Linked DNA regions of Homo sapiens. The protein of the gene in region 1 interacts with the protein of each later gene in a biochemical or structural test. Each region holds a gene or a part of one and is shown in the gene's direction. Other genes may lie near its edges.

What was found.
Region 2: the proteins of ERBB3 (region 1) and TXK form a complex in vitro, tested with the Homo sapiens proteins (2 studies listed by BioGRID and IntAct, with this or other methods).
Region 3: the proteins of ERBB3 (region 1) and SH2B3 form a complex in vitro, tested with the Homo sapiens proteins (2 studies listed by BioGRID and IntAct, with this or other methods).
Region 4: the proteins of ERBB3 (region 1) and LCK form a complex in vitro, tested with the Homo sapiens proteins (one large-scale study listed by BioGRID).
Region 5: the proteins of ERBB3 (region 1) and SYK form a complex in vitro, tested with the Homo sapiens proteins (2 studies listed by BioGRID and IntAct, with this or other methods).
Region 6: the proteins of ERBB3 (region 1) and GRB7 form a complex in vitro, tested with the Homo sapiens proteins (2 studies listed by BioGRID and IntAct, with this or other methods).
Region 7: the proteins of ERBB3 (region 1) and FER form a complex in vitro, tested with the Homo sapiens proteins (2 studies listed by BioGRID and IntAct, with this or other methods).

The regions. Positions count from the first base shown.
Region 1 is NC_000012.12:56,086,665-56,090,164, forward strand, and holds part of ERBB3 (receptor tyrosine-protein kinase erbB-3 isoform 1 precursor), read left to right. Parts: intron 1-912; coding exon 913-978; intron 979-1,130; coding exon 1,131-1,249; intron 1,250-1,356; coding exon 1,357-1,498; intron 1,499-1,878; coding exon 1,879-1,992; intron 1,993-2,083; coding exon 2,084-2,204; intron 2,205-3,500. UniProt on the Homo sapiens protein: Tyrosine-protein kinase that plays an essential role as cell surface receptor for neuregulins.
Region 2 is NC_000004.12:48,113,751-48,117,250, reverse strand, and holds part of TXK (tyrosine-protein kinase TXK), read left to right. Parts: intron 1-2,848; coding exon 2,849-2,903; intron 2,904-2,910; exon of another isoform or gene 2,911-3,500. UniProt on the Homo sapiens protein: Non-receptor tyrosine kinase that plays a redundant role with ITK in regulation of the adaptive immune response. Regulates the development, function and differentiation of conventional T-cells and nonconventional NKT-cells.
Region 3 is NC_000012.12:111,419,423-111,422,922, forward strand, and holds part of SH2B3 (SH2B adapter protein 3), read left to right. Parts: intron 1-986; exon of another isoform or gene 987-1,066; intron 1,067-3,500. UniProt on the Homo sapiens protein: Links T-cell receptor activation signal to phospholipase C-gamma-1, GRB2 and phosphatidylinositol 3-kinase.
Region 4 is NC_000001.11:32,268,265-32,271,764, forward strand, and holds part of LCK (tyrosine-protein kinase Lck), read left to right. Parts: intron 1-3,500. UniProt on the Homo sapiens protein: Non-receptor tyrosine-protein kinase that plays an essential role in the selection and maturation of developing T-cells in the thymus and in the function of mature T-cells. Plays a key role in T-cell antigen receptor (TCR)-linked signal transduction pathways.
Region 5 is NC_000009.12:90,874,819-90,878,318, forward strand, and holds part of SYK (tyrosine-protein kinase SYK), read left to right. Parts: coding exon 1-31; intron 32-2,752; coding exon 2,753-2,962; intron 2,963-3,500. UniProt on the Homo sapiens protein: Non-receptor tyrosine kinase which mediates signal transduction downstream of a variety of transmembrane receptors including classical immunoreceptors like the B-cell receptor (BCR).
Region 6 is NC_000017.11:39,740,938-39,744,361, forward strand, and holds part of GRB7 (growth factor receptor-bound protein 7), read left to right. Parts: intron 1-1,314; coding exon of another isoform or gene 1,315-1,364; coding exon 1,365-1,519; intron 1,520-1,628; coding exon 1,629-1,779; intron 1,780-1,960; coding exon 1,961-2,117; intron 2,118-2,242; coding exon 2,243-2,364; intron 2,365-2,455; coding exon 2,456-2,533; intron 2,534-3,132; coding exon 3,133-3,270; intron 3,271-3,424. UniProt on the Homo sapiens protein: Adapter protein that interacts with the cytoplasmic domain of numerous receptor kinases and modulates down-stream signaling. Promotes activation of down-stream protein kinases, including STAT3, AKT1, MAPK1 and/or MAPK3. Promotes activation of HRAS.
Region 7 is NC_000005.10:108,750,897-108,754,396, forward strand, and holds part of FER (tyrosine-protein kinase Fer), read left to right. Parts: intron 1-3,500. UniProt on the Homo sapiens protein: Tyrosine-protein kinase that acts downstream of cell surface receptors for growth factors and plays a role in the regulation of the actin cytoskeleton, microtubule assembly, lamellipodia formation, cell adhesion, cell migration and chemotaxis.

The DNA.
Region 1 (3,500 bases):
CCGTGATCAAGATTGCTCCCCAGTCCCACCAAACCAGAGTGACTCCCTTCTTTCCATCATCCTTACATTCCTGATCTGAACCCGCCTCCCCAGTGAACAAACACCTCAGGTCCCTGACTCAGCAGCCCACCAGGGCAGACCATTCCAGTCTCCTGGAATCTAAACCACAGAGGAGGTGTTTCAAGAAAAGGAGCAGGCCGAGCATGGTGGCTCATGCCTATAATCCTGGCACTTTGGGAAGCCAAGGTGGGAGGATCGCTTGAGCCCAGGAGTCCAAGACCAGCCTGAGTAACATAGCAAAAAATCTACAAAAAATTAAAAAAATCAGACAGGCGTAGTGGCTCGCACCTGTAATCCCGGCTACTCAGGAGGCTGAGGCAGAGGATTGCTTGAGCCCAGGAGGCTGCAGCTGCAGTGAGCTGTGATTGTGCCATTGTACTCTAGCCTGGGCAACAGAGTGAGACCCTGTCTCAAAAAAAAAAAAAAAAAATCCCTGAGTACTAAGCAGGGAAGCCAGATCTTTAGACTCCACATCTGTTACTCGTTCCACTAGAATATACTCCCATTTCCTTGGAGCCCACCTTCCCCTGACCATTCACATGCATATATTCCTGCATATATTCAGTTTGCCCAGGAGGAACTAAGTTCCTGGGTTGGGACTAGGACTAAGGTTGGCATTTGCCCCAGTCCCTCCCCTTCAGCTGCCCAGTGGGTGGTGTGGAGGCGTGGCCGCGCCCCTTGTTGACAGGTCCACTTGAGCCCAGCCCTGCTCTCCAAGGGCAGGGAGGGACACAGCCCTGGCTTTTTGCTTCCCGGGATTGAGGTGCCTGTGTACTGACATCATACCCCGTTGATTAAAACAAGCCTTTCTTAGCCCTGATGGCCCCTTGTGTTGCCTTCCTTCCCAACCAGGTCCCCCCTGTCATGAGGTTTGCAAGGGGCGATGCTGGGGTCCTGGATCAGAAGACTGCCAGACATGTGGGTTTGAAATTCCCTCCAAAAACTTCACTCATACGCTTTCATATCCCTTCCTCCCCAAGCCTGGGTCAACACTGTGGGGGAGGCATGAGCAGTGGCCTCAGAATTCAGTCCTAGGAGCCCTAACAGCCATGCTTTCTCTCCTTCCATAGTGACCAAGACCATCTGTGCTCCTCAGTGTAATGGTCACTGCTTTGGGCCCAACCCCAACCAGTGCTGCCATGATGAGTGTGCCGGGGGCTGCTCAGGCCCTCAGGACACAGACTGCTTTGTATGTACCCTTTCCATTGCCTGGGTTCTGAAATTGGGATGTGGCCTTTGAGGAGGAGGTAGGGGTACACACGTAACATAAATCTGATGAGCCTCCTTTTTTCCCAGGCCTGCCGGCACTTCAATGACAGTGGAGCCTGTGTACCTCGCTGTCCACAGCCTCTTGTCTACAACAAGCTAACTTTCCAGCTGGAACCCAATCCCCACACCAAGTATCAGTATGGAGGAGTTTGTGTAGCCAGCTGTCCCCGTAAGTGTCTGAGGGGAAGGAACAATGATCAACAATAGTAGATCCAAGATTTTAGACAAAATTGTGGAAGGGAAAAAGAATCCAGTTGGTGATAAATAGGGAGATTGGTGAATGGTTATGATCATCTAACCACTCCAGTGAGTGACCCTTACGTCCAGTCCTCCCATGACTTCAGCTATCACCCTTACTTCTGCTCCTTGTAGCAACAAATAGTGAAGAGACTTTTGAATCTATAGGGCAGCACTTAAGGGATCTAGGGTGGCAGATGGGGACAAATCCAGTGCAGAGCTGGAGGGAGCCTAGGCCCAGAGCAAGGGTTCCATTGGTAGCTGGTGATGTTCCTCCCTCATCTCTAATGGTGTCCTCCTCCTCTTCCCTAGATAACTTTGTGGTGGATCAAACATCCTGTGTCAGGGCCTGTCCTCCTGACAAGATGGAAGTAGATAAAAATGGGCTCAAGATGTGTGAGCCTTGTGGGGGACTATGTCCCAAAGGTGGGTAGGAGATGGTAAGAAGTTGTAAAGAGACAGCCTTTCCTCTGAGCCTGCGCAGACCACCCCCACTGAACCTCTCTTACATTTGCAGCCTGTGAGGGAACAGGCTCTGGGAGCCGCTTCCAGACTGTGGACTCGAGCAACATTGATGGATTTGTGAACTGCACCAAGATCCTGGGCAACCTGGACTTTCTGATCACCGGCCTCAATGGGTTAGAGATCCTGCCTTCCCTCCTTAGACCCCAGCCCACGCACCCCTCACAGTTCATTTCATTGGCCAAAACTTTCCTATGTGGAGCTGACTAGGAATCAAAGTCATAAAATTCTAGCCTGTTACAAAGGACCTGAAAGAATGCTTAACACATCCTCCATCCAGGCCTTCGGTCCCCTCAGGAACATCTTTGAGCAATTCAATATCGCCCTGCCAAGGAACAAGGGACAGGAACAACATATCCTCCTTCTTAAAGTTTTCTTTTTTATTCTTTTTTCTTTTTTGAGATAGGGTCTTGCTCTGTCACCTAGGCTGGAGTGCAGTGGCGTGATCTCGACTCACTGTAGCCTCGACCTCCTGGGCTCAAGTGATCCCAAGTAGCTGGGACTATAGGCACACACCATCATACTTGACTAATTTTTTTGTATTTTTTTGTAGAGACAGGGTCTTGCTATGTTGCCCAGGCTGATCTCGAACTCCTGTGCTCAAGCAATCCTCCCATCTTGGCCTCCCAAAGTGCTAGGGATCACAGCACCCAACCTCCTTCTTAAAGTTTTGTAAAAGTTCTTCCTTAGATTTGGATAAAAATCTGTCTCCAGGCTGGGCCCGGTGGCTCATGCCTATAATCCCAGCACTTTGGGAGGCCGAGGTGGGCGGATTACGAGGTCAGATCGAGACCATCCTGGCTAACATGGTGAAATGCCATCTCTACTAAAAACACAAAAATTAGCTGGGTGTGGTGGTGCACATGCCTGTAATCCCAGCTACTCAGGAGGCTGAGGCACGAGAATCACTTGAACCCAGGAGGCGGAAATTGCAGTGAACCGAGATTACACCACCGCACTCCAGCCTGGCGACAGAGCGAGACTCTTTCTCAAAAAAAAAAAAGAAAAGAAAAGAAAATTCTGTCTCCCCATGACTTTTAGCTGTTTTCACTCATTCTGCTCCTTGGAGCAAAAAGAACAAAGGGACTTTCTAGTCTATAGGACAGCATTTAAAATGTGTGTGTGTGTGTAAAAAAAACCCACTATGACCACCTGTTTTTTTTTTTCCTTTAATTTTTTATTTTGACATAATTTTAGATCTACACTAAAGTTGCAAGAATGGTATAAAATTCCCCATATACTTTTTTTTTTTTTTTAAGACAAAGTCTCACTCTGTTCCCCAGGCTAGAGTGCAGTGGTGCAATCTTGGCTCACTGCAACCTCCGCCTCCTCTGCCTCCCGGGTTCAAGCAATTCTCCTGCCTCAGTCTCCTGAGTAGCTGGAATTATAGGTGTGTGCCATCATGCCCGGCT
Region 2 (3,500 bases), on another chromosome or scaffold:
AGTGGCAAAGGGGAAATGGAATGGATAATGGAAGAGGGCATATATGATTTCCACTTTAGGATGGGCCGAGCGCGGTGACTCATAACTGTAATCCCAGCACTTTGGGAGGCCAGGTTGGGCGGATGACTTGAGGTCAGGAGTCCGAGACTAGGCTGGCCAACATGGTGAAATCCCATCTCTACTAAAAACTACAAAAAATTAGCTGGGTGTGGTGGCACATGCCTGTAATCCCAGCTACTCAGGAGGCTGAGGCAGGAGAATCACTTGAACCTGGGAGGTAGAGGAGGTTGCAGTGAACCAAGATAGCACCACTGCACTCCAGCCTGGCCGACGCAGTGAGACTCTGTCTGAAAAAAAAGAAACAAAAAATGGATGCTGAGGGGTGGACTGTGCTGGATGTTTCCTGTCTGCCTCTCTCCCTGCCGGTCCACTCTCTGCCTTTCACCAGCCTGCTGTTTGCTGCTGTGTGATTTACATACAACCATCTGGCTTCCTGCTGGGTTAGGCCAATGGAGAGCCCAGCAAGGAGGGAGGGAGGACAGTGGAGTAAGGATATTTATCCTCCTGATTTTCTTGCTGTGAAGTCTCCTTGGGCAGTCTGTGTCCTTGGATGGATGATACATGCTCTTTTCCAGGTGGCCTGGGCCACAGATACCCTCTCCTTCTAGGTTCTGGTAACCTTCCCTTCCCTCCTCACTTGGTTAGGTGTGGTGATGGCTCAGCTCTGGATTCCTGCACTATCCTTGTAGTTTTACTACACTCTGCCTACATCTCTATACTTCCTTTTATAAATAAATCCTTCTCAACATATCCCAGTTTGAGTGTGCCTTCTGATTCTTGTTGGGATCCTGACTGATAATACTTACCTTTATGATCCAGGGACTTTAAAAGATGTTATCTGATTGATTCTTCACCACGATCCTATTATAATCAGCCTTCTTGATTACCCTCTTACTGTATACCTGGTATTGGTCTAGGAGTTTTACATGAATCGACTCAATTAGTCCTCACCGTTGGCTTACATGTTAGGCATCCTATTATTCCCATTTTACAGACGAGGAAACTAAAGCACAGAACATTTACTAGTTTACTCAAAGTCACAAAGTTAGACATTTATAGGGCTTCTCAAAGGGAGTACATACTATTTACCTCAGTTTTACAGTTAGAAAAACTAAGACTTAGAGAAGTAAAGGGACTTATCCAAGATGTAGTCAGCCAGGTGACTAGGGCTAAACCCCAGGTCTGTCTCCCCTCAAAGTGAATGCTCACCTCTAAGGTACTCTGCTGCCTCCAGAATATTTTCGGATGTCAATATGAGTATGAGCTGATGGGGAAATGTAGGTTCTATGAAAATAAAATATCCTTTTGAAATTCAAAATTTATTTATGTTTTTTTTTTGACAGAGTCTCACTCTGTCACCAGGGCTGGAGTGCAGTGGTGCAATCTCAGCTCACTGCAGCCTCCATCTCCCAGGCTCAAGGGATCCTCCCACCTCAGCCTCCTGAGTATTGAAGACTACAGGCATGCACCACCATGCCTGGCTAATTTTTTTAAAAAGTTTTTTGGGGTAGACATGGGGTTCTGCCATGTTGCCCAGGCTGATCTCGAACTCCTGGGCTCAAGCGATCTGCCTGCTTCGGCCTCCCAAGGTGCTGGGATTAGCGGCATGAGCCACCACCCTTGGCTTATTTATGGTCTTTAAAAAGGAAAATCATCTCACTTCAATAAAGATGAAGCTTGACAATGAAAGTCTAGGCATAACCTAGACTTACTAGCTAGTTCTTTCTTCAAATATTCAGTTTATCTTTAAGCTTATTCCATAGTAAGAGCCTATGTTTTATGGAATACTATGCAGCCATAAAAACGAATGAGTTCATGTCCTTTGCAGGGACATGGATGAAGCTGGAAGCCATCATTCTCAGCAAACTAACACAGGAACAGAAAGCCCAACACTGCATATTCTCACTCATAAGTGGGAGTTGAACAATGAGAATATATGGACACAGAGAGGGGAACATCACACACCAGGGCCTGTTGTGGGGTGGAGGGCAAGGGGAGGGAGAGCATTAGGACAAATACCTAATGCATGCGGGGCTTAAAATCTAGATGATGGTTTGATAGGTGCAGCAAACTACCATGGCACATATATATCTATGTAACAAACCTGCTTGTTCTGCACATGTATCCCAGAACTTAAAGTAAAATTAAAAAAAAAAAGAAAGAAAGAAATACCAATACCTAGATTCCTCCCCAGACAGTCTAATTTTTTTGGTCTGGGGTATGCAGGGTATGACCTGTACACCAGAATATTTTTTTTAAAGCTCCTCAGATAATTCTAACATGCAGCTAAGGTTTAGAACAATTTTTAATTACAATAAATACGTAAAAGAATAAAAATCCCACTGAAATGTTGATGGAATTTTTAAAAAGAGCCTATGTTTTAAACATTTCAATTTAAAAAAATATGACAGATCTAATTCAAAATCCCTGCTAACAGATTTCCTAGGAGAGCATCACTTCTGGAATCCTATTCTCTTGTATATTTGTTAGCGAACATTAGCCCTGACAAAGGTAAAAGAGAATACACTGGTCATTTATCACTCACAGACTGAGGAAATGCAAAAACCAGGCCAGAGGAGAAGAGCCTGAGAAGGGAAACCACACTGGCCAAGGTGCCAGAAACTTATTTTTTGCTTTAGTGACAGTTATTTGTCTTCCACTAGTGAAGGAAGGCACGATCGAGACTTTCATACGCTTTATAATAATTCGTCTCACCCTTCCCTTAGAGACTCCCTCAATATCACGTACTCATGGCTTTCTAACAGCTGAGAAATGATCTGCTTTTCAGATAACACCATCCAGTCGGTTTTCTGTTGCTGCTGTTGCTGTTCAGTGCAGAAGCGGTAAGTCTACTTCCGAGGGCAATTTCTTGAAAATTAATTAATTCCGTTTCTTTATTACCTGTGGAGTCACCATGTCTCTTTGCACCCGCTGTTCTCTCTACCTGGGAACCTTCTCCCATTTTCTCCCTGTGGAATGCCTATTTGTTTACAGGTCTAGGTCAAATGTCAGGTCATCTGGGATCCTTTCCTGATCCTTTAGATTTCATTGTTCATTCCATTGCATTCCCACCGTGTGCGGCATTGTTCTCCACTTAATTTTTATTTCATGTATGTTGTTTATAGGTCTGTGCTCCAATACGTATTTTTTCCCTTTAAGGGCAAGAATCCTATCTTAGTTATCTATCTCCCCAAAACTACCGGTGTATCTTATACTTTGGTGGCAGTAAATGACTCTGTAAGAATTAAATCCAAGGCAGCATGTTAACAGAAAAAGCTAACATTTAACAGGAGCTTCCTGTATATCAGATACTATGCTAAAAGATTTATGTTTATTAACTCATACAGTTCTCAAAACCACCTACTTTTTTTTTTTATGATCCCCATTTTACAGATGAGGAAATTGAAGATTAGAGAGGTTACATTGCTTACCCAAGGCCA
Region 3 (3,500 bases), about 55 Mb from region 1:
GGCCAGGGGTTCAAGACCAGTCTGGCCAACATAGTGAAACCCTGTCTCTACTAAAAATATAAAAAATTAGCTGAGCACAGTGGCGCACGCCTGTAATCCCGGCTACTTGGGAGGCTGAGTCAGGAGAATCACTTGAACCTGGGAGGGAAAGTTACAGTGAACTAAGATTGCACCACTGTATTCCAGCCTTGGTGACAGAGTGAGACTCTGTCTCAAAAAAAAAAAAAATGTTTAGACTTACAGGAAAGTTGCAAAGATAGTAGTGTTCCTTTACACATGGTACCCAGCTTCACCGAAGGTTCACATCTTACGCTGCTGTGTACATTGGTTGTAGCTAAGGAACCAGCACGGGTACATCACTATTAGCTAAACGCCACTGTTCCTTTGGCTTTGCCAGTTTTCCTCTAATGTCCCTTTTCTGTTCCAGCTCGCCCCCCAGGATACCACATGAGGTTTAGTCGTTACGTCTCCTTAGGCGCCTCTTGGCTGTAACAGTTTCCAACCCTCTATTGCTGATAGCCTTGGCAGTTTTGAGGAGTACCAGTCAAGGATTTTGTACAATGTCCAGGGACACCTTTTTGCCTTCACATTTGGGTGTCATGTGGGCTGGTAGCAGGTCACTCTGAGATCCTTGAAAACTCTGACTCAGACTGGCATTGACAGATTGGTGTTTTATTTCCAGAGGGCTCAAAACCTTCAGAGAATTTCTCTGCACCTCCTGTGCCTTGGTGATATTTTGCAAGTTAAAAAGAATTTGTCCTTTGGCAAAACCCCATTGCTACAAAAAATACCAAAATTAGCTGGGCGTGGTGGTGTACGCCTGTGGTCCCAGCTACTCTGGAGGCTATGGTGGGAAGATCGCTTGAGCCCAGAAGACCAAGGCTGCAGTAAGCCAAGATCGCACCACAGCACTACAGCCTGGGTGACAGAGCGAGACCCTGTCTCAAAAAAAAAAAAAAAAAAAAAAAAGTTCTTTTCCTTCACAGCTGGCTTAATTCCTACTGTGCTGTTGAGGCTGAAAGGTCACTGTGTTCTACTCACCTGCCAGGCTCCATCTTTGACTCAGGTATGCATGACAGGACCATATGGCTTTCATCTAATTGCTCTCTCTTTGGGATCCTGTTACGTGGTAGGGCCTTACTCTAGAGCATGAGCAAAACCGATGTGATACTGGCCCTGAGGGGCTCACGATGTGGGTGGAGGAAACCTATGGTTACTCTTTCATTCATTCGACAGATATTTATGGAGCACCTACTATGTGTTAGGCACATGCTAGGTTCTGGGGGACCAGGCGGGCCTAGTGGAGGCTGTTGAGGAAATAAACCCACAGATGAGCATGGAATTAAAAATGGTAAATTGTGTTCTAAAACTGGTAAACTGTGTTCTAAAGGAAAAGCAATGGGGTCTCTGGGAGGATAACTGAGGGGTCCCGGTTTGGCGGTTTGGGAGAGTCATCCAAGAATCCTTTGAAGTAACGTTTTCAAACTGACTGTGGCGTAACATGCAGACCTGGAAGTGCGTGAAGTATGAGACACATCTGAAGCTCTGTGTTTCCGTGTGTGTGCAACGCAAGTGACCAGCACCCCAGAGGGCTCCTTCATGCCTCCCCCAGGCCAGTGCCCTGTACCCCCATACATACCACCTCTTATCACCACAGGTTCGATTTCTCTGTTCTTGAACATCATGTGAATGGAATCACACAGTAGGTTGCCTTTGTTTTATTTTATTATTTTATTTTGAGACAGGGTCTCACTGTGTCACCTAGGCTGGAGTGCAGTGGTGTGATCATGGCTCGCTGTAGCCTCAACCTCCCAGCCTCAGGTTATTTTTGTGCCTCAGCCTCCCCAGTAGCTGGGATCACCGTCACGTGCCACCACTCCCAGCTAATAAATAGGTTGCCTTTTATTTCTGGCTCCTTTTGCCCAGCATAATGTTTTAGAGATTGATCACATTGATCGTACATGTCAATAGTGTCTTCCTTTTTTTTTTTTTTTTTTTTTTTTTTGAGACAAGGTCTCGCTCTGTCACCCAGCTGGAGTGCAGTGGCTCGATCTCAGCTTACTGCATCCTCTGCCTCTTGTCCTCCTGGGCTCAAGCAGTCCTCCCACCTCAGCCTCCCGAGTAACTGGGACCACAGGCACGTGCCACCACACCTGGCTAATTTTTGTATTTTTTGTGGAGATGGGATTTCACCATGTTGTCAAGGCTGGTCTCGAACTCCTGGGCTCAAATGGTCCCCCCACTTCGGCCTCCCAAAGTGCTATGATTACTGGCATGAGCCACCACGCCCAGCCGGGTTTGTTTCTTTTGAGTACTGAATAGATTCCATTGCACAGCTGTCTCCATGTCCCACAACTGGTTTATCCCATCCTCTGTTGATGAATATTTGGGTTGTTTCTATTTTGATTTATGAATAAGGCTGTTATGAAGTTTGCATCTAAGTCTAAATATGGACACACATCCTTTCATTTCTCTCAGGTGGATTCCTAGAAGTGGCATTGCTCAGTCATAGAGTAGGTACATGTTTACTTTAGAGAAATTGCCAGACTTTTCCCAAAGCAGCTGCACCATTTTGTGTCCCACCGGCAGTGGGCGAGAGTTCCGGGTGGTTCCACTTCCCCACCAACACTTGAGCACTTGGTGGGTTTTTTTGTGTTTTGTTTTGTTTTTGTTTTGAGACGGAGTCTCGCTCTGTTGCCCAGGCTGGAGTGCAGAGGCACAATCTCGGCTCACTGCAACCTCCGTCTCCTGGGTTCAAGCTGATTCTCCTGCCTTAGCCTCCCAAATAGCTGGGATTATAGGCGCGTGCCACCACACCCAGCTGATTTTTGTATTTTTAGTAGAAATGGGGTTTCACCATGTTAGCCAGGCACTTGGTGTTAAGAGTCACCGGTGGCTGCGTTCCTGGATCTCAAGGTGGCTTTACTTTGCGTTTCCCTGATGACTCATGGAGGTTAAGCACCTTTTCATATGTTGATTGGTCATCGGAATTTGGTCGTTTGTGAAGTACATGTTTTTATTGTCTGTCTAGCCTTTTTTAAATTGATTTGTAAAAGTCGTTATATATTTTGGACAATTTCTTTGCGTTTTAAAAGTCATTTCCTACCTTTATGGCCTGGCTTTTCATGAAAAGCAGTTTTGTTTTTTTTTTTTCTTGAGATGGAGTCTCACTCTGTTGCCCAGGCTGGAGTGCAGTGGCGCAATCTCGGCTCACTGCAACCTCTGCCTCCTGGGTTCAAGTGATTCTCCTGCCTCAGCCTCCCGAGTAGCTGGGATTACAGGCGCATGCTACCACGCCTGGCTAATTTTTTGTATTTTTAGTAGAGATGGGTTTTCGCCATGTTGGCCAGGCTGGTCTTGAACTCCTGACCTCGTGATCCACCTGCCTCAGCCTCCCAAAGTACTGGGATTACAGGCGTGAGCTACCTCACCTGGCCTCAATTTTTGTATTTTTAGTAGAGATGGGGTTTCACCATGTTGGCCAGGCTGGTCTTGAACTC
Region 4 (3,500 bases), on another chromosome or scaffold:
TATGTTGGGCTTCTTTTCAAAACTTAAAAAAATTTATTATTATTATTCATTTATTTATTTACTTTAGACAAGGGGTCTTGTTCTGTCACCCAGGCTGGAGTGCAGTGGTGCAATCGTAGCTCACTGTGGCCTTGAACTCCTGGGCTCAAGTGATCCTCCTGCCTCAGCCTCCCAAGCACCTGGGATTATAGGCATGCACCACCATGCCCAGCTAGTTTTTATAATAATAATAATAATAAGAGGCTTGCTTGAGGTGATGGATAGCTCATTTATCCCTTTTGTGATTATTACACATTGTATGCCTCTATCAAAATATATCATGTACCCCATAAACATATATACTTACCAGATACCCATAAAAGTAAATAAATAAATAAGTAAATAAATAAATATACAAAATTAGCCGGGCGTGGTGGCACATGCCTGTAATCCCAGCTACTTGGGAGACTGAGGTAGGAGAATCGCTTGAACCTGGGAGGCAGAGGTTGCGGTGGGCCGAGATCGTGCCATTGCACTCCAGCTTGGGCAACAAGAGCAAAACTCCGTCTCAAAAAAAAAAAAAAAAGAAAAGAAAAGAAACAGGAGTCTAGGGCTGGGCACAGTGGCTCATTGCCTGTAATCCCAGCACTTTGGGAGGCTGAGGTCAGGAGTTCGAGACCAGCCTGGCCAACGTGGCAAAACTCTGTCTCTACTAAAAATACAAAACACAAAATACAAAAATTAGCCAGGCGTGGTGGTGCACGCCTGTAGTCCCACCTGCTTAGGGAGGCTGAGGGAGGAGAGACAGAGCTTGCAGTGAGCCCAGATCACACCACTGCACTCCAGCCTGGGCAACAGAGCAAGTCTAAAAAAAAAAAAAAAAGGAAAGAGAGAAAAGAAACAGGAGTCTAGGCTGGGCATGGTGGTTCACGCCTGTAATCCCAGCACTTTGGGAGGCTGAGGTGGGTGGATCACTTGAGGTCAGGAGTTCAAGACCACCCTGGCCAACATGGTGAAACCCCCATCTCTACTAAAATTACAAAAATTAGCTGGGCGTGGTGACACATGCCTGTAGTCCTAGCTAGTCAGGGGGCTGAGGCAGGAGAATCACTTGAACCTGGGAGGTGGAGGTTCCAGTGAGCCAAGTTCACACCACTGAACTCCAGCCTAGGTGACAGAGTGAGATTCTGTCTGTTTTTTTTTCTTTTGAGATGGTATCTTGCTCTGTCACCTAGGCTAGAGTGCAATGGCGTGGTCTCAGCTCACTGCAACCTCCACCTCCATGGTTCAAGCAATTCTCCTGCCTCAGCCTCCCAAGAAGCTGGGATTACAGGCGCGCACCACCACGCCCAGCTAATTTTTGTATTTTTAGTAGAGACAGGGTTTCACCATGTTGGCCAGGCTTGTCTCGAACTCCTGACCATGTGATTTGCCCTCCTCAGCCTCCCAAAGTGCTGGGATTACAGGCATGAGCCACCGCGCCCAGCCGAGACTCTATTAAAAAAAGAAAAAAGAAAGAAACAGGAGTCTAAAGCAAAGGAGATTAATTACCCAGTCCCATTCTTCCACCTTCCAAAGCAGGAGTTGGTAGGACAGAATTGTGCACTGGTGAAAGTGTTTCTAAGCACTAAACTAAGCTAACATTCATGTGAGCTTATGAGAAATGGATGAAGAGCCCCATTTGACAGAAGAGGAAAAGTGAGGCTTAGGAGGAATGATTTCAGCAAAGTCACACAGTAAGTGTCAAAATTGCTATTTGAACTTAGGTCTCTAACTATGGGGACAGTCTTCTGAGTTTTGCTAATGAGAAACTTCCACTGCTCCCTGCTTCCACTTAGACCCAGCATGAATTCTCTCTCTCTGTCTCTCTTTTGTTTTTTCTTTTTAGACAGAGTCTCTGTCACCCAAGTTGGAGTGAACAGTGCGGTGGCAGTGGCAGGATCTAGGCTCACTGCAACCTCCACCTCTTGAGTTCAAGCAATTCTCCAGCCACCATGCCCAGCTAACTTTTTTTTTTTTTTTTTTTTTGTATTTTTAGTAGAGACAGGGTTTCACCATTGTTGGCCAGGCTGGTTGTCTTGAACTTCTGACCCCAGGTGATCCACCCACCTTGGCCTCCCAAAGTGCTGGGATTACAAGCATGAGCCACCGTGCCCAGCCTGCTCTTTTGAGATGGAGTCTCGCTCTGTCATCCAGGCTGGAGTGCAGTGGCTTGATCTCGGCTCACTGCAACCTCTGCCTCCCGGGTTCAAGTGATTCTCCTGCCTCAGCCTCCTGAGTAGCTGGGATTACAGGCGTGTGCCACCATGCCTGGCTAATTTTTGTATTTTTAGTAGACACGGGGTTTCACCATGTTGGTCAGGCTGGTCTTGAACACCTGACCTCGTGATCCACCCGCCTCAGCCTCCCAAAGTGCTGGGATTACAGGAATGAGCCATCGTGCCCGGACTTTTTTTTTTTTTTTTTTTTTTTTTTGAGACGGACGGAATCTCACTCTGTTGCCAGGCTGGAGTGCAATGGCGCAATTCCGGCTCACTGCAACCTCTACCTCCTGGGTTTAAGCGATTCTCCTGCCTCAGCCTCCTGAGTAGCTGAGATTACAGGCACCTGCCACCAAGCCCGATTAATTTTTGGATTTTTAGTAGAGGCAGGGTTGCACCATGTTGGCCAGGATGGTCTCGATCCCTTAATCTTGTGACCCACCCGCCTTGGCCTCCCAAAGTGCTGGGATTACAGGTGTGAGCCACCGCGCCTGGCCTTTTTTTTTTTTTTTTTGAGACAGGCTCTCGCTCTGTTATCCAGGCTGGAGTGCAGTGGCACAATCGTAGCTCATTGCAGCCTTGAGCTCCTGGGCTCAAGTGATCTTTTTGCCTCAGCCTCCCAAGTAGCTGGAACTACAGGCATGCCCCATCACACCTGGCTAATTTTTTGATTTTTTTTCTAGAGATGAGGTCTCACTATGTTGCCCAGGCTAGTCTGGAACTTCTGAGTTTGAATGGTCTTACTGCCTCAGTCTCCCAAAGTGCCGCGATTACAGATGTGAGCCACCACGCCCGGCCAGCAACTCCAGCTTTGCTCTACTCCAAATAGGTTGTGTGACTTTAAGCATACCTCTGTGGGCCTCAGTTTGCTCATCTAAAATCAGAGGTTTAGCCAGGTATGGCAGCTCATGCCTGTAATCCCAGCACTTTGGGAGGCCAAGAAGGAAGGATCACTTGAAGCCAAGAATTTGAGACCAGTCCGGGCAACATAGCAATACCCCCATCTCTAGAACAAATAAAAAATCACCTGGGCTCAGTGGTGCCAGCTACCCAGGAGGCTGAAGTTAGAGGATCACTTGAGCCCAGGAGTTTGAGGTTCCAGTGAGTTAGGATTGGGTCATTGCACTGCAGTCTGGGCAAGAGAGTGACACTTTATCTCAAAAATAAATCAACAAATAATAAAATTGGAGATTAGGCTTGCTGGTTTCTAAGACCTTTGCAGATGGGAGACTCTATGCATTAACACTGCATGTTCCAGTT
Region 5 (3,500 bases), on another chromosome or scaffold:
CTGTGAAAAAGGGCTACTACCAAATGAAAAAGTAAGTTGCTATGTTCCACCAGCCTCACCCTCACATGAGCTCAGGTTCTAGACATGACTGAGAATAACAAAATGTAACCTGGCATGACTAAACCCTTTTTTTATTAATGCTACCATTCTTGTTAATTTCTGGTACTATTATAATGAAAGCGTCCATTACCTTTAATGGCAAAAACTGCAATTACTTTTGCACCAACCTAATAGTACATGCACCTTATGGAAAATTAGGAAATAGAAACAAGCAGAAACATAAGAAAATAAAAACATCAAATTGGCATGGTGGCTCATGCCTGTAATCTTAGCAATTTGGGAGGCTGGGATAGGAGGATTGTTTGAGGCCTGGAGCTTGAGACCAGCCTGGGCAACATAGCAAGACCCTGTCTCTACAAAAAAAATAAATAAATAAATAAATAAATAAAACATAAAAAATTAGCCAGACATAGTAGTGCACACATATACTTCCAGCTGCTCAAGAGGCCAAGAAGCCAAGGCTGCAGTGAGCCATGATTGCACCACTGCACTCTAGCCTGGGTAACAAAGCAAGGCCCTGTTTCAAAAAACAAAACAAAAAAAAGAAAAGAAGAACATCATATTTGTATAATACCATCCCAACACTACTACTGTTAACTAAACATTACTACTGTTAACTTAATCTTATTGTATATATTTTTAGATCTTTATTTGTACACACAGATATTATTTAATTAAAACAAAATCATTCCATTATAACAATAGTTTTTACATTTATTTTCTTTAATTTTATAGTTACATCTCATTTTTCTTACATGAAAATTATTGATTCCAAATATGATTAGTATAATTATTTATTGGCTTTATCCTATGATTTCAGATAACAATACATATTATACAACAGTTAAAATTGCTAAATTTCGAAAATATCTTTGTATTTCTTTTGGTCTTTAGAAGGTACCCAACATAGAATGTACAAGTAAAACTACTGGTTTCTAAAGTCCTTTGAAATACACCCTCTGTTTGAATTGGTATGATACTAATATGAATGTGGTTAGATTTAGTAGCTTCATGGTATTTCAAATGTAAGGGATTTTTGTAAAAAAAAAATTCGTGAGTAGGTAATTTTTATGATTCAAGGGTTAAAAATATAGACAAAAATATACACAGACATGCGTGCTTTCCGGCCGGGTGCCGTGGCTCATGCCTATAATCCCAGCACTTTGGGAGGCCAAGGTAGGTGGATCACCTGAGGTCTGGAGTTCAAGACCATCCTGGCCAACATGGTAAAACCTCGTCTCCACTAAAAATACAAAAAATTAGCTGGGTGTGGTGGCATACACCTGTAGTCCCAACTACTTAGGAGGCTGAGGCAGGAGAATCACTTGAACCTGGGAGGAAGAGGTTGCAGCCAGCCAAGATCACACCATTGCACTCCAGCCTGGGCAACAAGAGTGAAACTCTGCCTCAAAAAAAAAAAAAAAAAAAGAAAGAAAGAAAAAAGAAATGCTTGCTTTCCAATCTGTCCCTTCGATTTGTTTTTGTGCATGTGTGTGTGTGTAAATTAGATACACATACATGTATGTATACACACACAAACATACACACATATGTATACATTCACAAGTATATACATGCGCACATATATACACACACAATCAAAATTGGCTGTGATACTTATTTTAAAATATATGTTTGTATATCACAGTCATTTTGTACAATGAGTAAAAATGTTTCTGTATTAATCCTAAGCTTTTTCAGATTATGAAAGGTTGTGATCTTTATTCTGTGCTTAAATTTGTGAATTAACATAGACATGACTGTGGACATAATTTCAACTAGAGAATTTGGGGAGAGGAGAGGCTCTCTCGGTCAATTTGGGGCAAAATGATGTCTTTACAATACTGAGTCTTTCAATCTATAAACACAGCCCATCTCTCCATTTACCAGGTCTTCTTCAGCCTCTCTCAGGAGAGTTGTTTACCTTTTCAATGTATTACATTGAAATATATGCTTTTAAATTCTGCACCTAGAAATTCACTTTCAACAATTATGAAAGGCATTTTATATTCACATTCATTACATGTAATCTGAGATGGTGAATCCCAAGATGTTACAGGAATTCGTACATGTCATCGTTGGTGAAGTTTATTTACAAGTTATTTAAATATTTTACAGTTTAGGGTTTTTGCTTGGTTGGGACATTCTTCAGTACTGTTCTTCACCATTCTTTTTATTTTATATTATTTTTTAGAAACAGTGTTTCACTGTGTCACCCAGGCTGGAGTGAAGTGGCAAGAAGCTCACTGCAGCCTTGAACTCCTGAGTCCAAGTGATTCTCCCACCTCAGCCTCCCGAGCAGCTGGGACTACAGGCTTGCACTGTCACACCTGGGTGATTTTTTTTAGAGATGGGGGTCTCACTATGTTGCCCAGGCTGACCTTGAACTTCTGACCTCAAGCAATCCTCCCCTTTCAACCTCCCAAAGTATGGGGATTGTCAGCATGAGCCACCATGCCCAGCCCCCACCATTCTTTTTTAGTAATGGAGTATTACTCTCATTGTCTATAAAATAAGGGAATATAGGTTGGAAGGCCAGCCATCCATTACAGGCTTCTGAAGACACATTGCCACTCTGTGGCAGGTATTTCCGTGGGACTGTTTCCACAGGGGGATTATGCTTCACAGGATAAGATTATCTAGAAGTGAGGCATTTTGGAAAGTTTCTTGTGTGTTATGATTTCTCTTGCAGAGTTGTGAAAACCGTGGCTGTGAAAATACTGAAAAACGAGGCCAATGACCCCGCTCTTAAAGATGAGTTATTAGCAGAAGCAAATGTCATGCAGCAGCTGGACAACCCGTACATCGTGCGGATGATCGGGATATGCGAGGCCGAGTCCTGGATGCTGGTTATGGAGATGGCAGAACTTGGTCCCCTCAATAAGTATTTGCAGCAGAACAGGTATTGTCAGGTGCCCCCACACATCTGGAAGCTATCCCCTAAGGGACAGGGCCCACCCCTGGATGGGCCGAGCAGCCTGATTTCCTTGGGAAGCCTTCCCACCCTCCTGTGCCTTCCTTTATTGGTCCATACTCAGGGACCTTGACAGAGGGACAGGGAGACATAGTCTTTGGATTCAGCTCTGTTAGCTCTAGTTGTTCAGAGAAGAACTCATTTGACAGTTTTGTCTTTTTTTTCTTCCTGTAGTCATTCAGTCTTGGCCTAGTGATAGACTCAGCCTCAGAATATCTTGACATGGAATCTCCTTTCTCACTGGGAAGAACACTTTCTTTTTAAAGAAACATTTTAAATAAATGCTTTTCTAAGAGGTGACAGTTAAGTCTTATCTGTTTGGCTGACCTTATGTTCTCATGAGTGATGACTTCTGAAAATACCAATCACTGCTAATTGATTACATCCATCAAGGGAGTAATTGTGTTCTTCTCATCTAAAGCTGTTGTTGAGATGAAGAAACTCACTTGGAGTAAGACAGAATGAT
Region 6 (3,424 bases), on another chromosome or scaffold:
AGTGTTTGGAGAACAGGCTGGGGGCTGGGATTGCAGGTTCTCCCAGGTCTCAGCCCGGCCAAAGGGGTCTGCTGGGTTCCTGCGGAGAAGGTGCCAGCCCCACCTCCACCTCTAGTGCTCGTCTTTGCCTGCTGTCCTGTCTTTACTTGTCTTGAGTGTCTGTGCAGCCCCTATAAGTGATAAGACATGGGTGAGATTGGCCTTGCCTGGGGGTACCAGGTGCCCTCAGACAAATGGGTGGATAGGACAGGTGCACAGTAATGGATGATGCGGCCCCCGCACAGTGCTGAGAGAGAGTCATTCAGTCTGAATGTGGAAGGCCAGGAAGGCTTCTCAGAGGAGGTGGCTCTAGCACTGGGGCTTCAGGAAAGAGTTGGGCAGGAGGATGGCCTGGGGAGGGTACGCAAGGTTTGGGGGCTGCTGGGGCCAGGACCCCTACCCCAGGCCCTGCTCTCCCCCTTGCACTGCAGCGGAGCCCGCTCTCCTGCCTTTCTGACTCCCATCCTTCCCCACCTCCTTCTCCCCTCTGCATCACTCATCACTTGGGCAGGCCAAACCTCGCCAAGTATGAACAGGCTCTGGCAACTGGGTCTGGCAACAAAGTGCTGGAAAAACCCGGGGCACAGCCCAGCGCAGTGAGTGCCCCACACGTGGAGGCAAAGGAGTGGGCCTTTGCCCTGACCCTGAGGGCTGAGCCTGAGAGTCTGTGGGTTGTGAAATCTGTTGTGACCACCAGGCTTGTGGTGGGTGGACCCTCAGCTCTTCCTGTGAGCAACTTTGTGCTAAAGAAAGAGCACTGGAGCCGGGCGTGGTGGCTTACGCCTGTAATCCCAGCACTTTGGGAGGCCAAGGCGGGCGGATCAGGAGTTCAAGACCAGCCTGGCCAACATGGTGAAACCCTGTCTCTACTAAAAATACAAAAATTAGACGGGCGTGGTGGTGGGCACCTGTAATCCCAGTTACTCGGGAGGTTAAGGCACGAGAATTACTTGAACCCAGGAGGTGGAGGTTGCAGTGAGTGGAGATGACGCCGCTGCAAAAAAAAAAAAAAAAAAGGAGAAAAAAAACAGAAAGAGCACTGGACTTGGAGTCTAAACACAGGTTCTACTCCCGACTCACCTGTGACTGAGGGCAAGAATGCTTTCTTCTCAGAGACTCGGTGTCCCCTTTTGTAAAATGAGGCTCATTCTGTCCTTCCCCAAGGGCTTCAGGGAAACTCCAGTTAGAGCAGTGAGGTGCTAGGTAAACTCTGAGGGGCACCCTAACCGCCGTGTGAGGTCAGGAGGTCTGAATTCTCTCATCCCCTCTCCCCAGGACAAGGGCACACAACTGGTTCCGTTAAGCCCCTCTCTTGCTCAGACGCCATGGAGCTGGATCTGTCTCCACCTCATCTTAGCAGCTCTCCGGAAGACCTTTGCCCAGCCCCTGGGACCCCTCCTGGGACTCCCCGGCCCCCTGATACCCCTCTGCCTGAGGAGGTAAAGAGGTCCCAGCCTCTCCTCATCCCAACCACCGGCAGGTACGATGGGGCGTGGGGCTTGGGGGAGGTCAGTGCTGGATAATACACAGAGGCTTGCAGGCCACTGCTCCCTTCCCCACACCTCTCTCCCTTTTTCTTCTTGCCACAGGAAACTTCGAGAGGAGGAGAGGCGTGCCACCTCCCTCCCCTCTATCCCCAACCCCTTCCCTGAGCTCTGCAGTCCTCCCTCACAGAGCCCAATTCTCGGGGGCCCCTCCAGTGCAAGGGGGCTGCTCCCCCGCGATGCCAGCCGCCCCCATGTGAGTTGTCCCTCAGAAGGGAAGGGAGGGATGCACGGGTTCTGGGTCTGTGGGAGATACACAGCCGCTTCCATGGAGGCAGGGGATCTTGGTTAGGAGTCCCTGAGGGTCTAGCAGGTGCGGAAAGGGAATGAATCACCCTTTGCCTCCCCTCAAGTCGTGTGCAATTCCTGGGGCGCAGGTAGTAAAGGTGTACAGTGAGGATGGGGCCTGCAGGTCTGTGGAGGTGGCAGCAGGTGCCACAGCTCGCCACGTGTGTGAAATGCTGGTGCAGCGAGCTCACGCCTTGAGCGACGAGACCTGGGGGCTGGTGGAGTGCCACCCCCACCTAGCACTGGGTAAGTCAGGTGCATGGAACTATCCGGGCTGGGAGATGATGCCTTGCATCTTGGGCTAGGCATGTGGCTCATCCAGGAGATCTGGTTGATCTCCAATAACCCCTGCTTTTTGCCCTTGTCCCCAGAGCGGGGTTTGGAGGACCACGAGTCCGTGGTGGAAGTGCAGGCTGCCTGGCCCGTGGGCGGAGATAGCCGCTTCGTCTTCCGGAAAAACTTCGCCAAGTACGAACTGTTCAAGAGCTCCCCAGTGAGTGCATGAGGGCTGTCTGGGCGCTGGGATGCCCTGATCCTCAACCTGGATGCTGGAGCCCTGATCCCTGACACTTGTCTACCCACAGCACTCCCTGTTCCCAGAAAAAATGGTCTCCAGCTGTCTCGATGCACACACTGGTATATCCCATGAAGACCTCATCCAGGTGGGGGGACCCCCCATTTCACTGCAGATTCACGACTCCCCAGCATTGGCCAGTGCTTCTCCACCCTTAAGTCCTGTGCCTCCCCTCTATGTTGTAGAAAGAGCCAAATCACAGTCCTGTGTGACTGGGGACAGTCACTTTCCCTGCCTGAGCATCAGTTTCTTCTATTAAATGGGGGCGAGAAATGCATGTGGAGCATTTCCTTGTAAAAACCTGAGGGTGGGCTGGGCACGGTGGCTCATGCCTATAATCCCAGCACTTTGGGAGGCTGAGGCGGGAGGATTACTTAAGCCTAGAAGTTTGAGAGTTTGAGACCAGCCTGGGCAACATAATGAGACCTCGTCTCTCCAAAAAAAAAAAAAAAAAAAAAAAAAAGGCCAGGAATGGTGGCATGAGCCTGTAGTCCCAGGTGCTTGGGAGGCTGAGGTGGGAGGATCACTTGAGCTCGGGAGGTCGAGGTTGCAGTGAGCTGTGATCGTGCCACCGCACTAGCATGAGACCCTGTCTCAAAAAGAAAAAGAAAAAGAGAAACATCCTGGTGGTAGAGGGGAAGGGAGGAGGTCAGACCTGTCACTCTCCTCTGCTCTCCTCTGGCTCAGAACTTCCTGAATGCTGGCAGCTTTCCTGAGATCCAGGGCTTTCTGCAGCTGCGGGGTTCAGGACGGAAGCTTTGGAAACGCTTTTTCTGCTTCTTGCGCCGATCTGGCCTCTATTACTCCACCAAGGGCACCTCTAAGGTAAGGTCTTGAGGGTACCAGCCCCAGCCCCTCCAGTCCCTGGTCCTTTTAGAAGTTGCCCCTTCTCTGCTGGAACCTCTGAGCCCTTCTCCCCCTGGGCCCCCCAGGCCAGCCACCTCCAGTTTACCATCTCTCCCTACATCCTTGCCTAGCT
Region 7 (3,500 bases), on another chromosome or scaffold:
AAACCAGCGTATGTGGCCGGGCGCGGTGGCTCATGCCTGTAATCCCAGCACTTTGGGAGGCCGAGGCGGGCGGATCACCTGAGGTCGGGAGTTCGAGACCAGCCTGACCAAAATGGAGAAACATGGTCTCTAATAAAAATACAAAATTAGCCGGGCATGGTGGTGCATGCCTGTAATCCCAGCTACTCGGGAGGCTGAGGCAGGAGAACCGCTTGAACCCGTGAGGCGGAGGTTGTGGTGAGTGGAGATCACACCATTGCACTCCAGCCTAGGTAACAAGACCGAAACTCCATCTCAGAAAAACAAAAAACAAACAAACAAAAAAACCACAAAAAGCCCAGCATATGTATATACATGTATATGTAGTATACATGTATATACACACCACCAAATTATAAGGTGCTTATTTTTGTTTGTGAGTGGGAATTGTACTTACTAAAACTATACTAACTTAATTACATGAGACTATTCAAAGCAATCTTGTGAGTGAGGTAGGAAGTCATCATCTTTGTAATCAAGGCCCAAATAAGTAAACTGCATTTTGGTAATCAGACAAAAGGAAATCTGATGAACTTGTTATACAAAAAAACGTTTTGCTTCAAAATTGGACTCCTGTGTAAATAGATTATAGTTTTGTACTTGATTTATAAATAAACATCTTTTGGAGGGAAGTCCAAGGGACTATCAATTATGTAAAATTTTGGTAACTTGATAAATTGGGTCAATCTTATGTCTGTTCATTTGGAATAAGAATGTATTTTTGTAATGGAAAAAGCTTACAAAGGTGAACTTTTTTTAGTAGAACTGCTTCATGGAGACTGACGTAATTAGAGAAATTTAAGTCAGTATTTCGATAGGACTCAACGATCTTGGGTGTTGTCTCATGGTTCTGAGGAATATTTTGATATAAAACTTCAATTTATAGTAAAGGAATAAGTGGAAATGGGTATAAATTCACACATTTGTATATTTGTAATTTTTCTATACCCGAGAAATTTGTGTACACCTTTTTAAGTATTTGAATCTTGCTTTTTAGTTTTTGCATACCCTAAATCTGTTTTTCATACTTACCTCGTTCATATAGTAATTTCTTAAATATTAAGGGCTATGTCTCAGAATTTATAGATCTCTGGATTGCTTTATTACTATTTTTCCAAATTTCATTTGTCTTTGGTATGCTTATGTATGGTTAACCTATCATGCTATTGAGAGACTGAAGGAAACAATTAGGTCACAGTTTTAGAACTTTAGTTGTAGATTCAGTGAACTCAGAAACAATTGGATTTTTTAAAATCAAGGCTCCAATTTTCCCTTCCCTCCCTTCCTCCTTCCCTTTTTTTACTCCTTTTCTTTCTTATTTTTGTTTGATTATAAATGTTAAATGCCTTACAATCAATTCAGAAAACTATAGAGAAGAAAATGAAGTCACTCATCATTCTACCATAATGATTTGAAAACTAACAAACTTTGATTTCTTCTGTAACACTCTACCAATTATTGAGATTTTATGGTTTTCATTTCAGTGTATCTGCATTCACATCAAAATTTGTAAGAGTTCCTGAACTTGAGGCTGTTACCTTAAATTAGAAGAGGGCTCCTAGATCTGGGGGAAAAATGGAAAAGAATAAATAGAGGACAGATTAGAGTCAGAACAGAGGAATTAGACCCAAGCAGTTACTGTTTCTTATTCTGTAAGTATAAATATTTTAGTTTACCATATAAAACTGCTGTATGGCTGACAAAATATGAGGCCATATTTTTTCTTTGGAATTCAAAGTATCTAGGTAAAACAAAGTTTTCTTGGTTCTTTTCAAGAAATAGTTCAGATTTCTTCATTTTTGGAGGATATTACATAATTCAGCTTTAAAAATTTAATGTCATGCATGTTTGGAATTATTTTAAAAATATTCATATCAGACAATTACTAATTTTTATTCATCATCACCATTCATTATAAACTTGATATTGTCACTTTTTTTAGTAGGTATTAAAAGACTGGACATTTTATGTAGGTTTTCCTTGCTAGGTTTCAAAGTGTAGTGAAAAGAGGAGCCATTTATTTTAGAGTCAGATAATCGGGTTTTAGTTCCAGTTTCTGTTCTGTGGGATCTTGGACAAGTTATTTTATCTCTTTAAGTCATAATTTTCTCATCTATTCAATAGGGATAGTAAAATTGCTTCACTAGCTTGTTACATAGAAGAAATGAGACAATGTAGGTAAGATTTAGGAAGTATTAAACTGACTTTAGGAAGTATTCAGCTTCTGTATTCAGTTCTTTATGTGATAACATTGATTTTATCTCTCCTTGTATTAATGTGTTTATTATACCATCCACAAAGTCCTTGTTTCAGACATAAGAAATTAAAATATAATTAAATTTACTTAAATTTAAATTTACAATAAATTTACTTAAGTTGAATGACATTTGCATTTATACAAATAAATAGTTAGAAATATCTCAGATTAGCTGTTCTTTTTATAAATCTTAGCTTATTGTATCTCAGCAGGGATAATTATAAATTTACTTTAAATGATTTTTAACTCCAAAATATCTCCAGTTTGTCTGGATTCCTGATTTATTTTTCTTTTTGCCTAGATGATCATGTGTTTTTGGATGGTTGCCCTAAATTCCTTTCATTTAAACCACAGGTATTAGCTACACGTTACTGTCTTAAATCTCTAACTAGTGCCCCCGCAAACACATTTTCTCAATCTGTTTAAAATTTAAACTTCATTTTTAAATTTAATAATACCCTTATTTGTATATTAGTTGTGTCTTTTCCACCTCCTACTGAAACGTATGATTATTTTTTAAGGAGCAGTATTTTACAGATATCCCTGTTTCAGATTGTGTGTTCTGTAAATACAGGGTTCTAATTCTTAAAGAACATACAGTTTAAATGGGCAGACCAGCCTATGGTTATTCTGTGTAGAGAAGCAAGCACTGAACTGACTTAGCAGTTGAACTAGAGTCCATATGGTCTCATCCAGCAGTAAAACAGATTTTTGTGATCCAAGTCAGTTTTCTTATATTTTTTCCCGTCCAGGTACAAGATATTTACATGTATGACATATTCCACTGTGCAGTTTTCTAGCATGCGAGCTCTAATTCAGTCTCTCTCCTATTCAAGAAAGCATATTAGAATGCAGATGATTGAGAGTGACATCATTATGGGTATAAACTTGAATCTACTCTGATTTATTGGAGAAAGTGAGTCATTAAAAAATGTGGGCTGGGTGCAGTGGCTCATGCCTGTAATCACAGTATTTTGGGAGGCTGAAACGAGAGGATCACTTGAGCCTAGAAGTTTGAGAGCAGCCTGGGTAACATAACGAGACGGCACTCTACAAAAAAGTTAAAAAATTAGCCCGATATGATGGCATGTGCTTGTACTACTACTAAGGTGGCTAAGGCAGGAGGATTCCTTGAGCCCAGGAGTTCAATACTGCATTGAGCTATGATTGCAGCACTGTGCTTCGGCCTGGGCAACAGAGTGAG